Homo sapiens: one gene and its partners. The protein of the gene in region 2 purifies or fractionates together with the protein of the main gene of each other region. This does not show direct contact. Each region holds a gene or a part of one and is shown on either strand. Other genes may lie near its edges. The genes, in order: GPBP1L1, MAP10, PPP1R15B, WDR62, AKAP11, AMER1 and PHLDB3.

Evidence for each region.
Region 1: the proteins of MAP10 (region 2) and GPBP1L1 purify together in Homo sapiens (affinity purification with mass spectrometry; one large-scale study listed by BioGRID and IntAct). This does not show direct contact.
Region 3: the proteins of MAP10 (region 2) and PPP1R15B purify together in Homo sapiens (affinity purification with mass spectrometry; one large-scale study listed by BioGRID and IntAct). This does not show direct contact.
Region 4: the proteins of MAP10 (region 2) and WDR62 purify together in Homo sapiens (affinity purification with mass spectrometry; one large-scale study listed by BioGRID and IntAct). This does not show direct contact.
Region 5: the proteins of MAP10 (region 2) and AKAP11 purify together in Homo sapiens (affinity purification with mass spectrometry; one large-scale study listed by BioGRID and IntAct). This does not show direct contact.
Region 6: the proteins of MAP10 (region 2) and AMER1 purify together in Homo sapiens (affinity purification with mass spectrometry; one large-scale study listed by BioGRID and IntAct). This does not show direct contact.
Region 7: the proteins of MAP10 (region 2) and PHLDB3 purify together in Homo sapiens (affinity purification with mass spectrometry; one large-scale study listed by BioGRID and IntAct). This does not show direct contact.

What each region holds. Positions count from the first base shown.
Region 1 is NC_000001.11:45,627,534-45,631,033, reverse strand, and holds part of GPBP1L1 (vasculin-like protein 1), read left to right. Parts: intron 1-427; coding exon 428-552; intron 553-1,355; coding exon 1,356-1,458; intron 1,459-2,625; coding exon 2,626-2,778; 3' UTR 2,779-3,500. UniProt on the Homo sapiens protein: Possible transcription factor.
Region 2 is NC_000001.11:232,804,198-232,808,215, forward strand, and holds the start of MAP10 (microtubule-associated protein 10), read left to right. Parts: upstream 1-1,218; 5' UTR 1,219-1,252; coding exon 1,253-3,970; 3' UTR 3,971-4,018. UniProt on the Homo sapiens protein: Microtubule-associated protein (MAP) that plays a role in the regulation of cell division; promotes microtubule stability and participates in the organization of the spindle midzone and normal progress of cytokinesis.
Region 3 is NC_000001.11:204,405,850-204,408,817, reverse strand, and holds part of PPP1R15B (protein phosphatase 1 regulatory subunit 15B), read left to right. Parts: intron 1-2,504; coding exon 2,505-2,726; 3' UTR 2,727-2,968. UniProt on the Homo sapiens protein: Maintains low levels of EIF2S1 phosphorylation in unstressed cells by promoting its dephosphorylation by PP1.
Region 4 is NC_000019.10:36,102,753-36,105,608, forward strand, and holds the end of WDR62 (WD repeat-containing protein 62), read left to right. Parts: coding exon 1-99; intron 100-195; coding exon 196-322; intron 323-403; coding exon 404-455; intron 456-590; coding exon 591-1,229; intron 1,230-1,765; coding exon 1,766-1,923; intron 1,924-2,015; coding exon 2,016-2,276; 3' UTR 2,277-2,356; downstream 2,357-2,856. UniProt on the Homo sapiens protein: Required for cerebral cortical development. Plays a role in neuronal proliferation and migration.
Region 5 is NC_000013.11:42,306,652-42,310,151, forward strand, and holds part of AKAP11 (A-kinase anchor protein 11), read left to right. Parts: intron 1-1,802; coding exon 1,803-1,958; intron 1,959-3,500. UniProt on the Homo sapiens protein: Binds to type II regulatory subunits of protein kinase A and anchors/targets them.
Region 6 is NC_000023.11:64,188,709-64,192,208, reverse strand, and holds part of AMER1 (APC membrane recruitment protein 1), read left to right. Parts: coding exon 1-2,330; 3' UTR 2,331-3,500. UniProt on the Homo sapiens protein: Regulator of the canonical Wnt signaling pathway.
Region 7 is NC_000019.10:43,487,747-43,491,246, reverse strand, and holds part of PHLDB3 (pleckstrin homology-like domain family B member 3), read left to right. Parts: intron 1-3,500.

The DNA of each region.
Region 1 (3,500 bases), about 190 Mb from region 2:
TTGTATTTCCTTTGTCAAAGATCAGTTGTCTATTTGTGGGCTCTCTGTTCTGTCCCATTGGACTATTTGTGTCATCTTCTGCCAGTACCACACTTTTTCCCCCCACACCTCTTATGAGCACTGTTACCATACTGTTTTAATTACTCCAGCTTTTGTGGTAAGTCTTGATGTCAGGTAATATCAGTACTCTGGTTTTATTCTTCAGTATTGTGTTGGCTGTTCTGGATCTTTTGCCTTTTCATTAAAACTTTAGAATCAGTTTTGTTGATGCAGCAGGTCCTCATTTGTAAATGGGGAAAAAAATCTGTGGGCTGAGGCTGTCTTTTGGAAAACACTTCCTGGGTCGTGAGTCCTTGATTTCATAGGTTGCTTATATTACTACAAAGGAACCTTAAACCAACTGTGTCCTTCCTTTTCCTTATTGCAGTTGGAGGACAACAGCACACCTGAACCAAAGGAAAATGGGGAGGAAGGCTGTCATCAAAATGGTCTTGCCCTCCCTGTAGTGGAAGAAGGGGAGGTTCTCTCACACTCTCTAGAAGCAGAGCACAGGTAAGTGAGGAGGACATCACAGGGCATGCAGTGTCTGACCTTTAAGGACCTTGAACATACTGGAGAAGATATCTCAGATAGATAGGTCCCACATGCAGAGAGAAGTGGCCCAGTCATAACTTGTTCTCTGTGTATGCCCCAGGTTGGCCTGTTGCTCATCAAGCATTCTCTCTCAAACTCAGCCATCTTTTCCACAATCTACTCTCCAATACTTTAATACTTTTAACTTCAGGCCGGGCGCAGTGGCTCATGCCTGTAATCCCAGCACTTTGGGAGGCTGAGGTGGGTGGATCAGTCAAGGTCAAGAGTTTGAGACCAGCTTGGCCAACATGGCGAAACCCTGTCTCTACCAAAAATACAAAAAGTAGCTGGGCATGGTAGTGTGCGCCTGTAATTCCAGCTACTAGGGAGGCTGGGACGGGAGAATGGCTTGAACCCGGGAGGCGGAGGTTGCAGTGAGCTGAGATTGTACCACTGCACTTCAGCCTGGGTGACAGAGTGAGACTCCATCCCAAAAAAAAAAAAAAGCCAGACTGCAAGTGCTCTCTTTCTTCCTTACACTGTCTTGGTTTTGCTTCTACTGTCTCTTCTTTAGCTCTTCCTCTCTCAACTGTGAAGAGCCTCCATTTATTTACAGCACCCAGGTAGCCACAATTAAAGCTTGTCCCACAGGGAGGAAAACAAAATTCCTTCTTTAACATCCATTGCCCCTGGGCAGAAAACTTTTCTGTGAAAAGTGGTGGGCTGTTCACTTAGGCTTAGTGATGTTGTATTCTCTTTACCTGTCCTTCTGCGTCCACCAGGTTATTGAAAGCTATGGGTTGGCAGGAATATCCTGAAAATGATGAGAATTGCCTTCCCCTCACAGAGGATGAGCTCAAAGAGTTCCACATGAAGACAGAGCAGGTATGTTGTAAACCTTCTTCCTAGAGACCAGTTAGTAACCAGGAGAATAAGGAGTCAAGACAGTTCTTGCCCTGAGGGAGCAAGTTTAATGTGAGAGAAAGATCGGGTGGGGGGGGGGGGGATTACCTTAGTAGAAATGTAGTGGGGCCCCTAAATCTGCCTGGGAAATAAGGATCCCCAGTGTTATATACAAAAACCAAGTGTCAGTGATTAGCAGATTCCAAAAAATAGTATGCTCTTTCATCCTAACAGCTCTAACTCCTTATCAGAACCACAAGGCTGTGTTCCAGAGCTATGGTCTGAGCTCTTGGTCTTTAAGGAAGCAGGTTCACCTTCCTCTGCTTCCTGATCTGCACTGTAGTTTCCTGGTCCTCTGGCCAGAGCTAAGAAGCTAAATAGCTTGTGTCAGTTTATCCAGCAGTTGCTTGGATTCTTTCTCTGAATAAAACACTGCTAGATCTTAGGGTGAACAAGACAAATGGGGTTTCTATAAAAATCCTTGAACTTCTGGTGGCCTGTATTTACAGCACAATTGGCCAAGTCCTTAAAAGGGGCATGGCACAAGCTGATGTGAGACCTTGCCACTTAGAACTCTGTTAGAAATAAGGACTTATGGCTGGGCACAGTGGCTCACGCCTGTAATCCCAACACTTTGGGAGGCCGAGGCAGGCAGATGACGAGGTCAGGAGCTCAAGAGCATACTGGCCAATATGGTGAAGCCCCATCTCTACTAAAAATACAAAAATTAACTAGGCGTGGTGGTGTGCGCCTGTAATCCAAGCTACTTGGGAGGCTGAGGCAGGAGAATCGCTTGAACCCAGGAGGCGGAGGATGCAGTGAGCCAAGATTGTGCCATTGCACTCTAGCCTGGGTGACAGAGCGAGATTCCGTCTCAAAAAAATAAATAAATAAAAAGAAATAAGGACTTTCAAGCCCCATCCCAGACATTCTGAATCTGAATCTGCATTTTTGAAAGATGCGTAGATGACTCGTAAATTAAAATTTGAAAAGTACTGGTATAAGAGATCTCAGAGGGTCTCTTAGAAGCACCCCCCGCCCCACATTCTACCTAGAATTGAATTGAGGCCTGGCCTTTCCCAGGGCTTATGGGTCAGTACAGTCATTGATATTTTTTTCTTTTTTCTTTCTCTCCCATGCTAACCATAGCTGAGAAGAAATGGCTTTGGAAAGAATGGCTTCTTGCAGAGCCGCAGTTCCAGTCTGTTCTCCCCTTGGAGAAGCACTTGCAAAGCAGAGTTTGAGGACTCAGACACCGAAACCAGTAGCAGTGAAACATCAGATGACGATGCCTGGAAGTAGGCATATAAATGCTCACAGTTAAATCTGACCCAGTAAACTCTGTGTGTTTAGGGAGTATACAAAAGAAATCGTTCTTTTCCTTTTCTTATGTTGTTGAATACTTCATTCACAAGGGAAATAATCATATCCCAAAGAGAGAGCAATTGGCTTGTTTTGCTTTTGTTATTGTTCTTCCCTGTTATCTGCTTTATAGAGAGAAGTTTGTGTGGTGGGACAGATTTTTTAAACACACTCACACACACACACACATACACACCCAGTATATATGGGGCGATGCACAGGTAGGAGCTGGCAGTGCAGGGAAGAGGAGACACTGGTCTGCAGCAACAGCTTCTACTACCAGCCCTTGGGGCACTCACCCCTGTGATCAAGCAATCATTGTCAATGACAAAGTGACTATTGAAGTTATAATTGTATTAAATTAATGCTAATAATTTGGATATTTTATTTTATTTTTGGCTGCTCGGGTAACTTTAGCCCTTAACCAAGCATATGTGGGTTTTTTTGGTTGTTTTTTTTTGTTTTTTTTTTCTTTTTCCTTTTTGGGTACAGCTGTAAAATATTTGGATATAGGAAATGTTGTGTTATTCTTGCAGCCTTGATATTCAGGGTGGATTGTAAAATATAAATTTTTGTGAGATTTCAAAGATTAAGATTATTTTGATAACATTATTTACAGATTTAAAAGATGTGGTTATCACAAGTCTCGAGGGGGAAACTAC
Region 2 (4,018 bases):
GACAGAATATAGTCCAAATTCTTTACCATGGCATTCAAGGCTCTCCAAAAACTGGCCTTGGATTCCTAGCTGGCTAGCTCATTGAGGTTAGGAGTATGTTTCTTAAAATATCTGGATAGAGCAGCAAGTTCTGTGTGTCTCTGTAGATGTGTGTATATTTATGTACACACATTTGTTTTATTGATGGAATCATTAACATTACTCTCATGCATCATGATTGCTTAGCTGGAAATGTTGTCAAATAAAAAACAGGGCCAGACAGTAGTTGAAGTGGCAAAAACACTGTAGTCAGGAACTACTGCAATAAGAGAAAAGAGACCTCAATACAGAGCTGGGCTCAATTCCAATTACAGCATGGACAAGTGGGGATTTAAAGCCAAGGGGGCGTCAGGTCAAGTGGATGGAAACTTACTGATAGGGAACATCACGGGTGGGAGGGTTCTGATTAAGCAGGCCTAATAGGATTCTTGCTGAAGCCAGGCCAGGGTGGTCAGATACCAATGATAGAAAATGAAGAATTTGATCAGGTATCGACGGTAATCAGGTATGAAGGGTTGGGGGTTCTCTCTCAACAGCCGTAGCGAGACCTTTGCTACAACTCGGTGATCCAGGGTCCACAGGATTGGAAGCCAAGGTCAAGGCCTAGTCGGAAAGAAGGCTTAGATGAGCCTGACCAAAGTTCAGCCAAGGAGAGTTTTTGCCAGTGTATTCACACTCCGTGTGTGTGTGGTGTGTCTGTCTCAGTACTACTGTAATTGATGAGGCAGGGGCTCCCTGGCCATCCCAGCAGTGTCACCATCTTTTGGGTAGAACAGCAGACACAGAGATGGCCCACTGTGGACAGTTAACTAACTGGCTCTGTTTAGCATGGGAAAGGAAGGAGAGTCCTGATTTTCTTTCAATATTCCTCAGGTATATTGATCTGACCCCCAAGTTACATAAGATCTGCAGTGATAAAACCATTACCCAAAAAACTCACTGTCTTTTACCACTTATATCCTCAGCATTATCATCAATTGTCTTAATACAAGGTTGGTGGCAAAAAACGGCTCACAAGTATGCATACAAAGGGGCCAAACACATTGAGCAGCAAAACCCCCAAAGCAGACACCGCCCGAGACCCGCTGGAGCGCTTCCGCAAATCTCGCGAGATAGCAGGCAGCGATGCCTTTTGCTCCGGTTTCTCGTGAGACCCCGGGGCTTCAGCTTCTCGTTTGCGGAGCCCGCGGCGGCGTTTCCTGGGGCAACAGCAATGGCGGCCTCGCTGTCCGAGCGGCTCTTCTCGCTGGAGCTGCTGGTGGACTGGGTGCGTTTGGAAGCCCGGCTGCTGCCGTCCCCCGCTGCCGCAGTGGAGCAGGAGGAGGAAGAGGAGGAAAAGGAGCAGGGGGAGGCCTCGTCGCCGCGCGGTCTGTGCCCCGCCGTGGCCTTCCGCCTGCTGGACTTCCCCACGCTGTTGGTTTACCCTCCTGACGGCCCCGGCGCTCCCGCCGCCGAACCGTGGCCCGGTGTCATCCGCTTCGGTCGCGGCAAGTCCTGCCTCTTCCGCCTGCAGCCTGCTACCCTGCACTGCCGGCTCCTGCGGACCCCGCTTGCCACCTTGCTGCTGCAGCTGCCCCCTGGGCGCCCGACGCCCACCCCACAGCTCCTGGGGGCCTGCGACATTTCGCTGGCCACCGCAGCGCACAGGGTCGTGGGGCCGGCCGCCTCCGGATGCTCCCACCGTCACCGGGGACGTTTCCCCCTGCATAATCGAGTGGGCGAGCGGACTGGGGACATTGCACTGGCCTACCGCCTGACTGACCTGGGAAGCCGCCTGCTGAGCCAACTTGAGCGGCCCCTCACCTTCACCCGCACAGGAGGAGGAGCGGAGGTCAGTCCCCAAACCCAGCAGGAAAGACAGCAGCTGCAGCAGCCAGCCTCACAGCCAAGCCCAAAAGAGGCTGATAAGCCGCTGGGGGAGTTAGAAATCCCAGAGGCACAGAAGGATTTGAAGGAAATGGTTAAAAGTAAGGCCGAATGTGATAATGTGGGTTCTGTGGAGAATGGCAAAACCAATTCTGTTGTTACATGTTCAGGTGCTGGCAATGGGAGAAATGTTAGCTCCCTAAATGAGGAAGTCACAGAATTGGACATGGAGACCAATATATTTTGCCCTCCTCCTTTGTATTACACTAACTTGACCCAAGAAAAACCGCCCCCTGCACAGGCTAAAATCACCATTGAGCCTCAAATGAATGCACCTGAGGAAATGGATGATGCTTCTCCTGAAAAAAAGCGTGTAAATCCCCCAGCACACAGGAGTTGTCTAAAGCATCCAAGTTCTGCAGCACACGAACATCCTCCAATGCTTGTAAATCCTCCACATATTCAGAATATAGGAGCAACTAATCAAACATGTCAAACTGAACAAAATCGAATTAATACAATAAGGCAGTTGCCTTTGTTAAATGCTTTGTTAGTTGAGTTGTCCTTGTTATATGACCAACCTGTGACAAGTCCTGCTCATATACATCCTCACCTAGCCTGGTTATATAGGACTGAGGATAAGAAGTCACCCGAATCTTCTGCCAAATCCACATGCCGGTCTGAAGCCAAGAAGGATAAGCGTTCTGTGGGGGGATGTGAAAAGTCAGTGAGTCTTCAGTATAAAAAGAACCAAATTGAAAACTATAAGGAAGATAAATATTCTGAAAAGAGCAGTGGTGCCCTCCATAAAAGAGTTCCAAAAGGGAGGCTACTTTATGGCTTAACAAATACACTAAGACTACGTTTAAAGCTGACAAATCCTGATATGTTGGTGGTACATGAAAAAAGAGAACTATATAGAAAAAGACAATCACAAATGTTGGGTACAAAATTCAGAATTCCGTCATCCAAAGTTAAACTATTAAGCTCTGCAGAACAAAGTCAGAAGCCACAACTGCCTGAAGATAAGTATTTAGATTCAGATGCATCTTTCACTGAAAATAGTGATACCTCAAGACAAATCAGTGGAGTTTTTGATGAGCCCAGCACAAGTAAAGAAACTAAACTGAAATATGCAACTGAAAAAAAGACAGTTGATTGTAGTAAAAATAGAATCAATAATGTTTCATTGGAAGAAGTTGTGAGTCCTGCAAATTCCATTATTCCAGAAAGGCTTACCCCTACAAATATTCTGGGAGGAAATGTGGAAATGAAAATCCAAAGTCCATGTGTTTTCCAACAGGATGCTGTTGTTGACAGAATTGTAGATAAGGAAATAGATATTAGACAGGTCAAAACCACAGATAATGACATTCTTATGGCTGATATAAGTGACAAGAGAACAGGTAAAAATAGTTGCTATGAAAACATCTCAGAACTGAAGTATTCAGATGATTTGTCTAGCCCTTGCTATTCTGAAGATTTCTGTACCAGTGAGGACACCAGCAGAAGTTTCAAAGCTCATGATAGCAGTTCAAGGACAGAAAATCCAAAACATAGTCAATATACAAGCAAGTCTAGTGACACAGGAGTGTCCAAAAAGAAAAATAGTAGTGACAGGAGTTCTATCCTTAGCCCACCTTTTTCAGCCGGGTCACCTGTACACTCATACAGAAAATTTCATATTTCAAAGACTCAGGATAAAAGTTTGGAGGAAGCATCTAGTATCTCTGCTAGTGATTTATCTTCAACACATTGGACTGAACAAAAAGAAAACCAGATAGATCAAAATAGTATGCACAATTCTGAAATTACAAAGAGAGCTCAAGACATCTCTGTTAAAACAAGAAGTAGTTGGAAATCTTTAGAAAAAAGCCAGTCACCACAAACATCCCAGGTGAGTTCTTACCTGCCTTCAAATGTGTCCGAACTTAATGTCCTGGATAGCAGTACATCAGATCACTTTGAAGAAGGCAATGATGATGTTGGTTCACTAAATATTTCCAAGCAATGCAAAGATATTTGTGAATTAGTAATAAATAAACTTCCAGGATACACAATGTAAAAATACATGCTTTTAAAAAACTTTCAAGGACCTATGTGTACTGTTAGT
Region 3 (2,968 bases), about 28 Mb from region 2:
GTGATGGCCACTTACTTGGTTTATCTTGACTAGTTGCTTCCTTTTCCCAGGCTAGTCTTAAAACTTCATGCAGCATTTTACGCTTTAATTACATTGTCAGGTTAACCTTATTTTGGGAGTCTTTAGAGTTGGTTTGTTTTTCTTTATAGTTGATTCAACTAAAGTTATTAATTGAACTCTTCTCCAAACTCAAAGGTGTCTATTATTGTAGAGGGAACGTTTTTTTAGTTTTCTATACCGTTACTTGGAGAGAGAAGTTAGTGGGTGAGTTATTATTGACCTCAGATTCTGCCTCACTGGGGCGTTTCAAATGGACAGTACCATAATCTCTTGGCTCCACATGGCCAGCTTACTACTTTGAAATTATTCCTGGGTAGAAAATGTCTCAAAATGGTGATAATCTTACGTCTTACCTTTAGGGCAGAATAAGTCATGTTAAAGATTAAATTTTAGTTCACACTTTGTAAATGCCATCTCTCTTTGTCCTTTTAAGGGGCCCCTGACAAAATGACCTATTTAGAATGAATAGGTAAGAAACAAAGTGGGGCAATGGAATGAGCACTTGGCAGCTGGAGCCCTGTGTTCTCTACTCCTCAGTGGTTAAGGCGCAGAGATTTGGAAGGCAGCCAGACCTGGGAAGTTGCTTGACTCTCATGGCCTCAATTCACTCTTACTTGATGGGTAAAATAATAATATCTATTGTACAAGTTATTGCAAGATTTAAATGAGACAAGTAAATAAAACTCAGAATTTATTGCCTTGCCTTTAAATGCTAGCTCTTATTGAGAGACCTCAGGCCAGTCTCATGTCTTGTTTTAGCTTGCTCGTTGAGTAAAATGAAATGAGTGGAGTAGATGATACTATTGACTATGAACTAGAAGCAGAATTTATAAATGATTATGTCTGAATATGATATAATTATTTGACAGCCTTTGACTACCTGCCATTGGTATATATGGGGAATGGTGTATGGAATATATGGAGTATATAGGATGATGGACAGTGAGTCTAAAAAACCCTTCTACCTCTGTTTTCTTATCGGTATAATGGGGATGATAATAGTCCATACCTCATAGGGTTAATGTGAGGATTAGATGAGATAAAAATGTAAAGCTCTTTAAAAAAAGCCTGGTATATGGTAAACACTGTACGTTTTTATTATTTATCTTAATGACACAATGAATGAGTAGTATTCAAGACTAGAATGCAATAACTAGTAAGGTGTTACATACCTGCTAATTGTCCTCAGGGGCATCCCTTGGCTTGATGTAAAGGGAACGAAAGTAGTAGGCCACATTGGGGTTAGCTGATGTAACTATTAAACATACTTGAAAGCAAGTATTTACTTTTGGAGTTTGATATCTTAGAAAGAAACTTCATTAGAAATTAAGTAGTGATTAGTAATGAGTAGGGATTGTCACTCATTACATGTCATTATGTATATTAGAATCACAATTTCATATATAGTGATAGCATATTGAATACAAAGGTTTTTAAAATCTTAACTACAAAGTTTCTTAGAGTAACACAGCTTTAAAAATACTAATTTTGCTATACTTTGTTTACTAAGTAACTTTTTCTCTTCTGTATTGTTATTGCCAAAGTAATGATACAAAAATAGTACAACATGTTGATTTAAAAGTTGGAAAGTGAAAAAAATTTTTAAAAGGAAAAAGAATAGAAGTAAGCAAAAATATTGTTAAAGCCTTTATGCAGTGATAAAAACAGTGACTTCCAGGGATATAGTGGTTATTTTCAGAAATATTTTGCTTGTCATTTTGAGGGAAAAATATCACAGAACTGTATTTCCCTAAGGATTAAAAAATAGCAGGGGTTAATAACAGCATGAAAAATTCAATTCCCTATCTGGATTCATTTTATTAACACCAAAAGCCAAGGGCTGGTGGGGGATTGGGGGGGGCAGACGACTGTGTGTGTATATTATGCAGATATAGATAAATGAAGTATATATAGATGAAAGATATATATCTCTATATGAAATATTTAGGTGACATTTGTTCACTATTTTATCCAAATGCCATCTAATCTGAACTTTTTTTTTTTTGAGACAGAGTTTTGCTCTTGTTGCACAGGCTAGAGTGTAGTGGCGCGATATTGGCTCACTGCAACCTCCACCTCCCAGGTTCAAACTGTTCTCCTACCTCAGCCTCCTGCGTAGCTGGGATTACAGGCATGTGCCACCACGCCTGGCTAATTTTTTCGTATTTTTACTAGAGACAGGGTTTCACTGTGTTGGTCAGGCTGGTCTTGAACTCCTGACCTCAGGTGATCCGCCTGCTTCCGCCTCCCAAAATGCTGGGATTACAGGCGTGACAGAACTTTTTTTTTAACTTCAAATATAGCTGGGACCAAATATTCCTAATAATAATATGTTATTCTTAGTTGGGAATATTCTGAAAGAATTGGTAGCATAAAGGGTTATTGACCTCAATGCTGATTGTAAGATCCTAGACAGTTATTAAAATTAGTCTTTGTTTTTGTAGGTAACCTTCCTTGAAGAAGTTACTGAGTATTATATAAGTGGTGATGAGGATCGCAAAGGACCATGGGAAGAATTTGCAAGGGATGGATGCAGGTTCCAGAAACGAATTCAAGAAACAGAAGATGCTATTGGATATTGCTTGACATTTGAACACAGAGAAAGAATGTTTAATAGACTCCAGGGAACATGCTTCAAAGGACTTAATGTTCTCAAGCAATGTTGAGTTGGCAGCCTGTAGTCCTAGCTAGCATACACTACCTCTTACCTGAGAGGTGTCTTTTAAAAACAAATCTTGGCAGCTGTCCTTTGACATTTTTTTTTTTAGAGGAAATGTAACTTGGATCTAGTTTAATTTTTTTTTTTGCAACATATCCCACTCAGAAACATTCAGGTTTGAAGCCAGCCCTGATAATGAAGGATGAACTAGTGTGATTTCTAATCCTCCCTTTTTTGATTTAGTTGGAT
Region 4 (2,856 bases), on a different chromosome or scaffold from region 2:
TCTGGGAGACGTGGAGGCCTCTGAAGCTGAAGACCACTTCTTCAACCCACGCCTGAGTATCTCCACGCAGTTCCTCTCAAGCCTCCAGAAGGCATCCAGGTAGAAGCTGGCCAAGCACTGCCCACCCTCTGGCTCCTCAACAGTGCCCCAGGGCAGGCTGAATGAGAATCATCCCCCCTGCTCTCCTCCCCACAGGTTCACCCATACCTTCCCTCCCCGGGCAACCCAGTGCCTTGTGAAGTCTCCAGAGGTCAAGCTCATGGACCGAGGCGGAAGCCAGCCCAGAGCAGGTACTGGCTACGCCTCCCCAGACAGGACCCACGTGAGTATTGGGCCCACCTCCGTCAGGGCACGGGGCTGGGAACCCTGAGGCCTTGTCCTCACCTCAGAGCTGTGCCTGCAGGTCCTCGCTGCAGGGAAGGCTGAAGAGACCCTGGAGGCCTGGCGCCCACCACGTGAGTGCCCCAGTCCCAGACGGACAGTCCTGGGTTTCTCGGCGAGTGGCCGGATGTCCAGCCTAGCTGTGGGGCGTGGGGGCCCTAGCCATCAGTTCTGTGTGGTGGAGTCAGTGCCATCTGCTTCCGTTACAGCTCCCTGCCTTACGAGCCTGGCGTCCTGTGTCCCTGCTTCCTCCGTGCTGCCCACAGACAGGAATCTCCCAACGCCCACATCTGCACCCACCCCAGGCCTGGCTCAGGGTGTCCATGCCCCCTCCACCTGTTCCTACATGGAGGCCACTGCCAGCTCCCGTGCCAGGATATCACGCAGCATCTCCCTCGGTGACAGTGAGGGCCCTATCGTGGCCACACTGGCCCAGCCCCTCCGTAGGCCATCGTCCGTTGGGGAGCTGGCCTCCTTGGGCCAGGAGCTTCAGGCCATCACCACCGCGACAACACCCAGTTTGGACAGTGAGGGCCAAGAGCCTGCCCTGCGTTCCTGGGGCAACCACGAGGCCCGGGCCAACCTGAGACTGACCCTGTCAAGTGCCTGTGATGGGCTCCTGCAGCCCCCCGTGGATACCCAGCCTGGCGTCACCGTCCCTGCAGTGAGCTTCCCAGCCCCTAGCCCTGTGGAAGAGAGCGCCCTGAGGCTCCACGGCTCTGCCTTTCGCCCAAGTCTCCCAGCTCCTGAGTCCCCTGGCCTTCCTGCCCACCCCAGTAACCCCCAGCTTCCAGAGGCCCGGCCTGGCATCCCTGGCGGCACTGCCTCCCTCCTGGAGCCCACCTCCGGTGAGTACAGCCCTGGAGCAAGGACTGTCCCCTAAGCTCATCCTGTGTGCTAGTTGGCTCAGCTCCAAAGATGGATACTTGACCTGGCCACAGGGACTGTGCCATTCATTCATTCGTGCATTAACTTAAATATTTAATGAGCATTACATGTTGGGCTTTGTGCTAAACCCTGGGACATGGGACATGGTGGTAAACAACACAGAGAACTGACAGCTTCAATGGGGACAATGCCCAGACTAAACCTTTAAGGAACCCGTCATATGTATCACGAAGTGACACATGCTTAGGAGGGACAGAGGAGGGCGAGGGAGTGCAGGGTGGGGACAGGGGTTGGGATTACAAACCAGAAGATAAGAAGAGGCTTCAGGGAGGAGGCTGCATTGGAGCAGAGACCTGTAGGAGTGAAGGGGAGGGAGCCTTGGGGACCCAGAGAAGTGTTCCAGACAGAAGTACAGCATGGAGTCCACCCAGTCGCTCTGGCCGCTCACACCAATGGAATGCAGCTCATCTTGCTCATTCCCTTCTCTCTACCCCAGGTGCACTTGGTCTGTTACAGGGCAGCCCTGCCCGCTGGAGTGAGCCCTGGGTGCCGGTTGAAGCCCTGCCCCCATCTCCCCTTGAGCTGAGCAGGGTGGGGAACATCTTGCACAGGCTGCAGACCACCTTCCAAGAAGCCCTCGACCTTTACCGTGTGGTGAGCTAAGCCCCAGAGTTGGGAAAGGGTTGAGGGGTCTCTTGAGACCGCCCGGCCTTGGTGGCCCCTGACAAGGCTGGCATCCCTTGCAGTTGGTCTCCAGTGGCCAGGTGGACACCGGGCAGCAGCAGGCACGGACTGAGCTGGTCTCCACCTTCCTGTGGATCCACAGCCAGCTGGAGGCTGAATGCCTGGTGGGGACTAGTGTGGCCCCAGCCCAGGCTCTGCCCAGCCCAGGACCCCCGTCCCCACCGACGCTGTACCCCCTGGCCAGCCCAGACCTGCAGGCCCTGCTGGAACACTACTCGGAGCTGCTGGTGCAGGCCGTGCGGAGGAAGGCACGGGGGCACTGAGGGCGCAGCCCCTCCACCGCAGCCCTGCTGCTTCTGAGGACTTAGGTATTTTAAGCGAATAAACTGACAGCTTTGAGGAATGGTTCCTGGTGTCTGTTTGGGCCTATCCACAAAGCCCTCTTCAAGTGGAAGTGGGGAGGGAGGGTAGAAGGTGATGCCCAGAGGACTCGTGTCTGTCAGTGGAGAGCATGGGACCAGCGCTCCCAAGAAGTTCAGGAACTGCAGCCATGACCTCAGGGCCAGTCCTCCCACACTGCCCACAGAGCTGCCACAGACCAGTGTGAGGTGCTTACCCAGTGGGGCCCATTTGTGCCCCAGGGAGGAGCCAGACCCTCTTACCTGCCCCCTGCCAGTGCCTGAGAACTCACTGGGGCTGCTGTGATCACCATGTGCCTACCTTGCCCAGCAGTCCACGCTTTGCCATATCATGGCTCAGGGCCTCTGGGCCAAGGCCACACTAGATCCCACAAAGTCCACGGTGGTGGTGTCCCCATCTGCAACAGGGGAAACTGAGGACCCATGAACAGGCTTGCCCAAGCTGGGTATGGTGGCCTGCACCTATAATCCCGGCTACTCAGGA
Region 5 (3,500 bases), on a different chromosome or scaffold from region 2:
TAAAGTTAAATTTGTCTTTCAAACTTGAAAGGAGATTCATTCAGATGGATTATTCTTTAAGGTATTATTTCACCTGATGTCCCTTTTTGTTTGATTCATGAACATGACCATAAATATTTCACAAACTGTAATGAACAGAGAGGTGGCATGTGAATGCAATTGGGAAATTATGTGATAGTACATTTTTATTCATTTTTGTTTGTTGTTGTTTGTTTGTAGAGATGAGATCTCACTATGTTGCTCAGGCTGATCTTGAATTCCTGAGCTCAAGCAATCCTCCTGCCCTAGCCTCCCAAAGTGCTGAGATTGCAAGCATGAGCCACCGTGCCTGGCTGATAGTGCATTTTTAGCCAACAAAACGATTATATTCTAAGCTATCATTCCGAGCCAAAATAACCTCACAGTCATTATAAACTCTTCTCTGGACCTCATCCTTTGGGTCATTTCAGCCAAAAACCATGAGAATGTGGCACATATTAGGAAAAGTATTCAAAAAAACAAAGTAGTAATCTATCAATGGTTCAGAACTATAATGTGCCTATGCTTGGAATGCTCAGTATCATTCTGTATCTTACAAAATTAGAATAGCTGAAAAAATGGGGGGCAATTCAGGGGCTATTCTCAGGATAGCACTAGGGATACGGAAGTAAGTAAAACAGGCAAAAATCTGCATTCTCTTGGAGCTTATGTTATAGTGGAATAAGACAATAGGTAAGTAAAATATATAGTATGTCACATAGTGATAAGTGCTTTGGGGGAAAAATAAAGCAAGGTAGGGAGTTAGGGAGTTAGAGAGTGCTGGTGGTGACAGTGGCGGTGGCCATTAGGGCTGGTTTACAGTTTTGGATAGGTAGCAGGGGAAACAATACTGGCAAAGTGATACTTGAGCCAAAAACCAAAAGTGAAATGAGAATAAGTCATGTGGGAGTCACCGAGAACAGATTTCCAGGCCTAGGGGTGGGACTGTGCATGTTTGGGAAACAACAGAGAGGCTTGTATTGCTGAAGTGGGAGGAGTGGGCCAGGGAGAACATAGGAGGAGTGGGCCAGGGAGAACAGTAGGAGTTCAGATGGATGTTATAAGAGGGGACAGGCAGTATGTTTTAAGGATTTGGGCTCTTCGGCTTGGTGGGAAGCCATTGGAAGGTTTTGATCCGAAGACTGACATTTTTTCTTTTTATGGAAACATCACTTTGAACTACTTTGTTGAACATAAAATGTAGTGGGACAATTAAAATAGTTGAGCAGTGAATGGACTTTCTTGTGATGATGGAATAAAAGTATAAATGCCTCTTATTGAGAAAAATGAAAGGGGTTATGATCTATGTTCAAAATCTTGAAGAGATTTGGTTAGTTTGAATACAGGCTTGGTTGACAATACTAGAATTTCTTGAACGACTTTTTTGTTCTTAAAGCCAGAAAGAGACTCCTTTAACATAAATAAAAGTACTGTTTTACAAAGCAGATGATAACTTAGGAACTTGTACTGCCCCATGGTATCTCAGTTGAAAAATGAACTGCTTTAAGTAGAATTTAGAGAAATAATGCCCTAGGGATAGATCCATTGTAGATTAACAAAGTAAGTTATGGCTGTTGGTGGGTACCTCAGTTAACTTTGAAATTAATACGCTATCCTACAGTCTGTTTGTTGGCAGACTCAAATAAAGGATTACATGAGCCACTGGTCTGATTCCGAATACCATTTCTTGTTTTTATCATCTTTGTCATCAAATTGATAGTCTTGTAAGTTCAGAATCTGGGATGCTTTCAATTTGATTTTTTTTCTTTTTTTCTTCTTTTTAGTTCAAAAGAAATAGAAGACTTTCAGTCAACCGAGTCTGTCAGTAGCCAGCAGATGAACCTCAGTATTGGTGATGACAGCACTGGTAGCTGGTCCAATTTAAGTTTTGAAGATGAACACCAAGATGAAAGCAGCAGTTTTCATCATCTAAGTGAAAGGTAACTACACTTTTGCATATAATTGTGTAGTTTAGGTCCTCAGATCTTAGAAGTGAGCTATAAATTTACATTATTATTTAAAAATTCTAAATTTGAAAATATGCTATTACTTTCAAAATGTATTTTATTATTCACAATGTATTTCTAATTGTTTTTAACACTTATTTAATACAGTAAGTAGCCCAGCTAATTTTATTGGGGTGTGCCAATAGTTGATTTGAAAAATATTGCATACATTTAATTTTATGCCTTTTAAGCTTCTCCCAAACTTTTTATGAACTTCTGAGGAAAAATTTTTTTTTTCACTTTAAAAAGGGTACTTTTTTTTCTTTAAAGAACAAGAAAAAGGACAGGTATCTGTAAAAGGCATCAAAGTAGCCCTGTACTTTTCCTGACATTAGTTAAAATAGTATCTTTTTGGTGGGGCGAGGGTCCCTGCTTGTCCTGCTGTTAGGAACAAAATGACCTGGAAGACTTATGCTTGAATGATTGAAAATACGTAAGTCAAAGCCATTATAAAAATGTGATTTTGTATAGCACAAGGCACTTACCTCATATATAACTTTTCTTAGTTAACTTTGTTCATAACAGTGGTGTTTGAAATATTTTATTAATTATGAGACAGTTGTTTCTTATAGTCTTAACCTCTACCTAAAGGCATTTCTGACTAACCTATAAAATTCTATAAACTCTTTATCCACATTAAGTGATAACTGGAAATAATAGATACCATTTGTAGCAGAGTCTTGAGGGAGGAAAGGGTTCTTAGCATATTGCTGGTTTCAGGCATGTGTGGAAAGGACCTGTGGACCATCAGTTGAACTTAGCCCCTGGAAATGGCAAACTAGGTGTGGGAGGGAAGGCAACTCTTGGAAAAGGGAATGAGGTAGCATAAGGAAAGGAAATGGCTTTTCACCTGATAGAACACTTCATCTCGAAGAGTTTTGTTCGATGCTTGGATTAACCTGGAAATATTAATATTTTTGTAAAGTATATTTTGTCATAGTTTATTATGGTGCTATATAAACCACCAATATTTCTTAAAATCTAGGTCCAAAAAGACAGTGTTTAAAACTGGTAGAAGCAAGTGGGGGCAATGTCACAAATCATGATTTGGCCCTTTTCTATAACTTTATCTAGAAAAGGATACTAACATTTAGTTTCTTCTCTCATTTTGAGAAACACAGGCTTCTATGATTTCAGTGGGGTTGACAGTGTTGCCTAGGAAATCCTGGCGTTAAAATGGGAGATTGAGGTGTGGGTAGAGGCTTTAAGCATTAAGAGGACTTGTAGTCAGTTGAACAACTCTGTGCTGAATATTATCTAATTTGATGAGAAAAAGGAGTCGTCTTACCGGTTTCTGTCCTTGGTTCTGTCCTCCTTAGCATTATTTATTAATGATGTGGAATACTCATTTGTGGATGATTCAACACAGGCTGAAAAAAGAATCTCATTAACAGAACAAAGGTTAAAAAGACCAAATCAAGCTGAGGTTAAAATAATTATGTTTAACATGGATAAATGCATTTAGGCTCAGAAAAT
Region 6 (3,500 bases), on a different chromosome or scaffold from region 2:
CCTGCCTGGTGACCTACCAAGGAGGTGGGGAGGAGATGGCCTTGCCAGATGATGATGACGAGGAGGAAGAAGAGGAAGAAGAGGTGGAATTAGAGGAGGAAGAAGAGGAGGTTAAGGAGGAGGAAGAAGATGATGACTTAGAATATCTGTGGGAAACTGCCCAAATGTATCCACGGCCCAATATGAACCTGGGCTACCATCCCACCACATCCCCAGGCCACCACGGCTACATGCTCCTTGACCCAGTTAGGTCTTATCCTGGCCTAGCCCCTGGGGAACTTTTGACTCCTCAGAGTGACCAGCAAGAATCCGCCCCCAATAGTGATGAAGGTTATTATGACTCCACCACACCTGGATTTGAGGATGATTCAGGTGAGGCCCTGGGGCTTGTCCGCAGGGATTGTCTACCCCGAGACAGCTACAGTGGAGATGCCCTATATGAGTTCTATGAGCCAGATGACAGCCTTGAGAACTCTCCACCTGGAGATGACTGCCTTTATGACCTCCATGGTCGAAGCTCTGAGATGTTTGACCCCTTCTTAAACTTTGAGCCCTTTTTGTCCTCCCGGCCACCTGGGGCAATGGAGACAGAGGAAGAACGGCTAGTGACCATCCAGAAACAGTTGTTGTATTGGGAGCTTCGGCGGGAGCAGCTTGAGGCCCAGGAGGCACGTGCCCGAGAAGCTCATGCCAGGGAGGCCCACGCCAGGGAGGCCTATACTCGAGAGGCTTATGGCAGGGAAGCCTATGCCAGGGAGGCCCACACTTGGGAAGCTCATGGCAGGGAGGCCAGAACCCGAGAAGCCCAGGCCCGAGAGGTTCGTTGTAGAGAGACTCAAGTCCGAGAGACCCAGGCCCGGCAGGAGAAGCCCGTCTTAGAGTATCAGATGAGGCCCTTAGGCCCATCAGTGATGGGCCTGGCAGCAGGGGTATCAGGGACCTCTCAGATTTCCCACCGGGGAATTACCTCAGCTTTCCCCACCACTGCAAGCAGCGAGCCAGACTGGAGGGACTTCCGTCCTCTGGAGAAGCGTTATGAAGGAACCTGCTCCAAGAAAGATCAAAGTACCTGCCTGATGCAGCTCTTCCAGAGTGATGCCATGTTTGAGCCAGACATGCAAGAAGCAAATTTTGGAGGATCTCCCAGGAGGGCCTACCCTACTTATTCACCCCCTGAAGATCCAGAGGAAGAGGAGGTTGAGAAGGAAGGGAATGCCACTGTGAGTTTCTCACAGGCCCTGGTAGAGTTCACCAGCAATGGGAACCTCTTTTCCAGCATGTCCTGCAGCTCTGACTCTGACTCATCTTTCACTCAAAACCTCCCTGAGCTGCCTCCCATGGTGACCTTTGACATCGCTGATGTGGAACGGGATGGGGAAGGCAAGTGTGAAGAGAATCCTGAGTTCCACAATGATGAAGATCTTGCAGCCTCCTTGGAAGCCTTTGAGCTGGGCTACTATCACAAACATGCCTTCAACAACTACCATAGTCGATTCTACCAAGGCCTGCCCTGGGGTGTGAGCAGCCTCCCTCGATACTTGGGACTGCCTGGCCTGCACCCTCGACCTCCACCTGCTGCTATGGCCCTCAACAGGAGAAGCCGCTCTCTCGACACTGCAGAGACCCTGGAGATGGAGCTCTCCAATTCCCACTTGGTCCAGGGCTACCTCGAGTCTGATGAGCTGCAGGCCCAGCAGGAAGATTCAGATGAGGAGGACGAAGAGGAGGAAGAAGGAGAATGGAGCCGAGACAGTCCCCTTTCCCTCTATACTGAACCCCCAGGGGCCTATGATTGGCCTGCTTGGGCTCCCTGTCCTCTTCCAGTGGGGCCAGGTCCTGCCTGGATAAGCCCCAACCAGTTGGACAGGCCTTCCAGCCAGTCTCCATATAGGCAGGCAACCTGTTGCATACCTCCTATGACCATGTCAATATCACTATCAGTGCCAGAGTCAAGGGCACCTGGGGAATCTGGGCCTCAACTAGCTCGTCCCTCACACCTACACCTGCCCATGGGCCCTTGCTATAACCTCCAGCCACAGGCCTCCCAGAGCATGAGGGCCAGGCCTCGAGATGTGCTGCTGCCTGTTGATGAGCCCAGTTGCTCTTCCAGTTCTGGAGGCTTCAGCCCCAGCCCTCTACCACAGGCCAAGCCTGTGGGCATCACCCATGGCATTCCTCAGCTGCCCAGGGTCCGGCCTGAGCACCCCCAGCCTCAGCCCACTCACTATGGGCCTTCCAGCCTTGACCTGTCAAAGGAGAGGGCTGAGCAAGGTGCCTCTCTTGCCACCAGCTACTCCTCCACTGCCATGAATGGAAACCTAGCCAAGTAGTTATTATCAATTCTGGAGTAGGGACACGGGGCCTGAGCATGTGAATGGGGATCAGGGGTTGGGCAGAAGGGTGGGGGGGTGGGGGTTGTTGTTTAACTTGAAAACCCTTTGGGCCAAGGAAAACTCCTGTGAGTTTTCACCTTGGTTTTCCCACTTGCCTCTTCTGCCATCTATGGCCACGTTCAACTCAAGTGCATCTGCCCAGGGAGGCTGCTGCTGCTACTGCACTCCAGTTTTTGCTTTCGAGGTTTCTTCTTGTGACCCACGCTGGGTTTGGGATGCTGTAATTTTGTGCCTATTCCAGTTGCCAAGTTAGTGATTATATATATATATATATATATATATATATATATATATATATATACACACACACACACACACACACACACACACATACATACACACACACACACAAACACACATGCACACACATATATAGCATGCATCCTTGACACAGGCTAAACCTTTAGTGCCCCCTGCCCCTTTCCCCCAATGAATGATGAACCACTGATTAGCAGCCAAGTCTGCATTGCCTCCCGCTTGGGGAAGTGGGGCTTATTTGCTATTAGCAATGTGAAATTATGGTACAGATCCTCCCCACCCCTATTCCTTTTGGCCTGGCATAGCTGCCATCATTATATCAGATGACTATAAGCTATTCATCCCAGCTAGCTGTCCTTAGAGAGGATCAAGTAGCGTGTGTCTCACAGCCTATCGCTGTGGACTTTGGCATCATGACCAGATGGGGGCCTTTTAACTGTCCTGCCATAGCTTGGGTTAAAGACAAAAATGCTAATCCCCTTGATGGAGTGATAAAATTCATCCATTTGCAAACAGAAGACAAAACAAGGTTCTGTTGTGGACACTGCCATAGAGTGTTGAGCTCCGGAATGATAGGATTTTTTTTCCTTCTTTTAAGCTTGTGACTACCTGAGTTGCAGATGCTTTTGAATTTTTGTTCTTTTTTCCTCTAAAGGAAATTTTCATAATCTCATCACAAGGAACACGGTCTTTTAATTGAGATAAGGGAAGAGAAGCAACCTAAATTAGGCTTGACTATAGGGGCTGGGGTTTTTGTGGAGTGTAGGGGAAAGATAGAAAATGAGGGTCCATTTATCACAGCCAGCAAGAAAGGGGATTTCAGACCATGCAGAGCTTAAGGTATCTCAG
Region 7 (3,500 bases), on a different chromosome or scaffold from region 2:
CTTTCTGGCTGCTTCCCCTGGAAACCTGATGAAGGTAGGTGTCAGCTGTGTTGCCAGGCAACGTGACTTAGGATAGCAATTACCCTTATTAGTAAATTGCATATATGAAAATATTTGGTGGGACGCCATGTCCAGTCCTATGGAGTTGTCACCTGACTTGTTGGCCCCTGTGCACAGAAGGCCTCTAAGCCCAGGTGCACCCTGTACCCACCAATGTGGATCATTGCTTAGCTCCTGGATCTCACCTGGGGGCCATGCATGCTTCTACATGCATTGCAGGAGGTCACTCATTTAATCCTTGCAACAACCCAGGAAGGGCAGTGAGATGTTACCCACTTTACAGAGAGGACACCTCGCTTGAGAAGAGAAATGACTTGCCTACGTCATGCACCCAGGAAGTGGCAGAGCTGGGATTTGAACCCGAACCGGCCTGTTTCTATGGCCTGCTGATGGCTTATGCAGTTCCTACAACATAAGTGCCCTGCAGACAAAGCTGGGGTCTGACCTGCCCACTTGGTTCCTCAGTGCCAAGTATCTAATATCTCCCAGCTAGGAAGTGCTGGGAATGTGGCTGGAAGGAAGGAAAAAGTCAAGTAAAGCACGGGGATTTGAGCCTCAGTTTCTTCTCTGTGAAGTGGAGCTAACATTTCTCAACTCCCAGAGTTTTTATTTTTTTTAGTTTTCAATTTTTGAGACAGTCTCGCTCTGTCGCCCAGGCTGGAGTGGAGTGTAATGGTGCGATCTTGGCTCACTGCAGCCTCTACCTCCCAGACTCAAGCGATTCTCCTGCCTCAGCCCCCCAAGTAGCTGGGATTACAGACATGCGCCAGGCTAATTTTTGTATTCTTTGTAGACATGGGGTCTCACTATATTGCCCCAGTCTGGTCTCAAATTCCTGAGCTAAAGTGATCTGCCTTCCCTGGACCTCCCAAAGTGCTAGGATTACAGGTGTGAGCCTTCATGCCTGGCCCATTATTTTCTTACCCATGATTCCCCTTAACCCCTAAATATTCCTAAATTTACTACCTAATGTCAAGCCCATTCTCTTACACAACCACAGTTCAATGATCGATTTCAGGAAACTACCACTGAGACAACACTATTAGAATCCACAGACCTTATTTGTATTTTGTCAGTTGTTCCACCAATGTTTTTCCCTCCCTCCCTCCCTTCCTCCTTCCCTTCCTTCCTTCCTTCCTTCCTTTTTCTCTCTCTTGCTCTTTCTTTTTTTTTTTCCTTTTTGGCAGAGTCTTGCTCTGCCGCTCAGGCTGGAGTGCAGTGGTGTGATCTCGGCTCACTGCAACCACTGCCTCCCTGGTTCAAGTGATTCTCCTGCCTCAGACTCCCGAGTAGCTGGAATTACAGGTGCCCACCACCACGCCCAGCTTATTTTTGTATTTTTAGTAGAGACGGGGTTTCACCATGTTGGCCAGGCTGGTCTCGAACTCCTGACCTCAGGTGATCTGCCTGCCTCGGCCTTCCAGAGTGCTGGGATTACAGGCATGAGCCACTGTTCCTGGCCCCACCAGTGTTTTTTCTAGCAAAAAATTCACAAAAAAAAACAAACTTTTTTTTTCTTGGCTCAGGAACACAGGTTGCATTTAGTTGTCATGTTTATTTGCTTTTAAAAAGTTAACATTCTCCTCGTTCAAAATTCACATGGTGTGGGAGGATATTCAGAGAAGACTCTGCGGCTCTTGTTCCCCCTCCTACGCTGTTCACTTCCTGAGGGCCACCAGGGTTACCAATTTCCCATGTGTTCCCCAGAGATATTCTGTGTTGACACAGCTAGTCATGTATGTACTTTCTCCCTCTTTTATGCATACCTAGTTTATTCTATGCTGTTCTGTACTCGCTTAAAAAAAAAAAAAAAAAAACTTTAAGAGATAGATCTCACTGTCGCCCAGGCTGGAGTGCAGTGGCATGATCATGGCTCACTGCAGGGTCAACCTCCTGGGCTCAAGTGATCCTCCCACCTCAGCCTCCTGAGTAGCTGGGACTACAGGTGCACGCTACCACACCTGGCCTTGGTTTTCTCTTGGATATTATGTTCTGTTTTTTTTCTTTTCTTTTTTGGATATTATGTTCTACCTGGATGTAGGATGCATCTTCCTCTTGTTCTACACTGCAGAATTGTCCTTAGAGTCACTTGGGTGCGGTGGCTCACGCCTGTAATCCCAGCACTTTGGGAGGCCGAGGCAGGTGGATCACTTGAAGTCAGGAGTTCGAGACCAGCCTGGCCAATATGGTGAAACCCCATCTCTACTAAAAATACAAAAATTAGCCTGGCGTGGTGGCACATGCCTGTAATCCCAGCTACTCGTGAGGCTGAGGCAGAAGAATCGCTTGAACCCAGGAGGCGGAGGTTGCAATGAGCCGAGATTGTGCTACTGCACTCCAGCCTGGGCAACAGAGTGAGACTCCAACTCAAAAAAAAAAAAAATGGTCTATGGAGTGCATAAGCCATGGTTCATTTACCTTGTCCCCTTCTGATGGGCATTTAGGTGGTCTCCAGGCTTTTGCTAGCACAGATGGCACTGCAGGGAATCACCTTGAACTCAGATCACTTTGCATGTGTATGAGTGTATCCATCCGCTGAATTTCTAGAATTGGAATTGGGGCTCCATGGTTTATGCATTTGTCATTCAGATTTTTTTTAAAAAAGCCAAGTTGCCCTCCATAAAGCTTGTTCCAGTAGAACACCCCCAGTATCATGTGAGGGCATCTGGGTTTCCTACATAGCCACCAGCACGGTGGGTTTTTTGTTTTTTTGTTTTACTTATTTTTTTTGAGACAGGCTGTCACTCTGTCGCCCAGACTGGAGCGCAGTGGCACAATCTCAGCTCCCTGCAACCTTGACCTCCGGGGTTCAAGCGATCCTTCCACGTCAGCCTCCACAGTAGCTGGGACTGCAGGCACGTGCCACTATGCCCAGCTAATTTTTCTATTTTTTTGTAGAGACAGAGTTTCACCATGTTGCCCAGGCTCATCTCCAACTCCTGGGCTCAAGCAATTTGCCTGCCTCAGCCTCAAAGTGCTGGCATTATAGGTGTGAGCCACTGCGCCTGGCTGCAGTGGGACTTTTTTTTTTTTGCGACAGAGTCTCGCTCTGTCGTCCAGCCTGGATTTCAGTGGCGAGATCTCGGCTCACTGGAACCTTTGCCTCCCAGGTTCAAGCAATTCTCCTGCCTCAGCCTCCTGAAAAGCTGGGATTACAGGCATGTGCCACCACACCTGGCTAATTTTTGTATTTTTAGTAGAGACGGGGTTTCACCATGTTGGCCTGGCTGGTCTCAAACGCCTGACCTCAAGTTATTCACCCGCCTCGGCCTCCCAAAGTGCTGGGATTACAGGTGTGAGCCACCACACCTGGCCCACAGTGGGATTTTTAGAAAGAGTTTTATTGAGGCATAATTCACGTCCCTATACAATTCATTCATTTAAAATGTACAGTTCTGTGTCTTTTAGTATATTCAACGTTGCGCAAACATTACCACAAT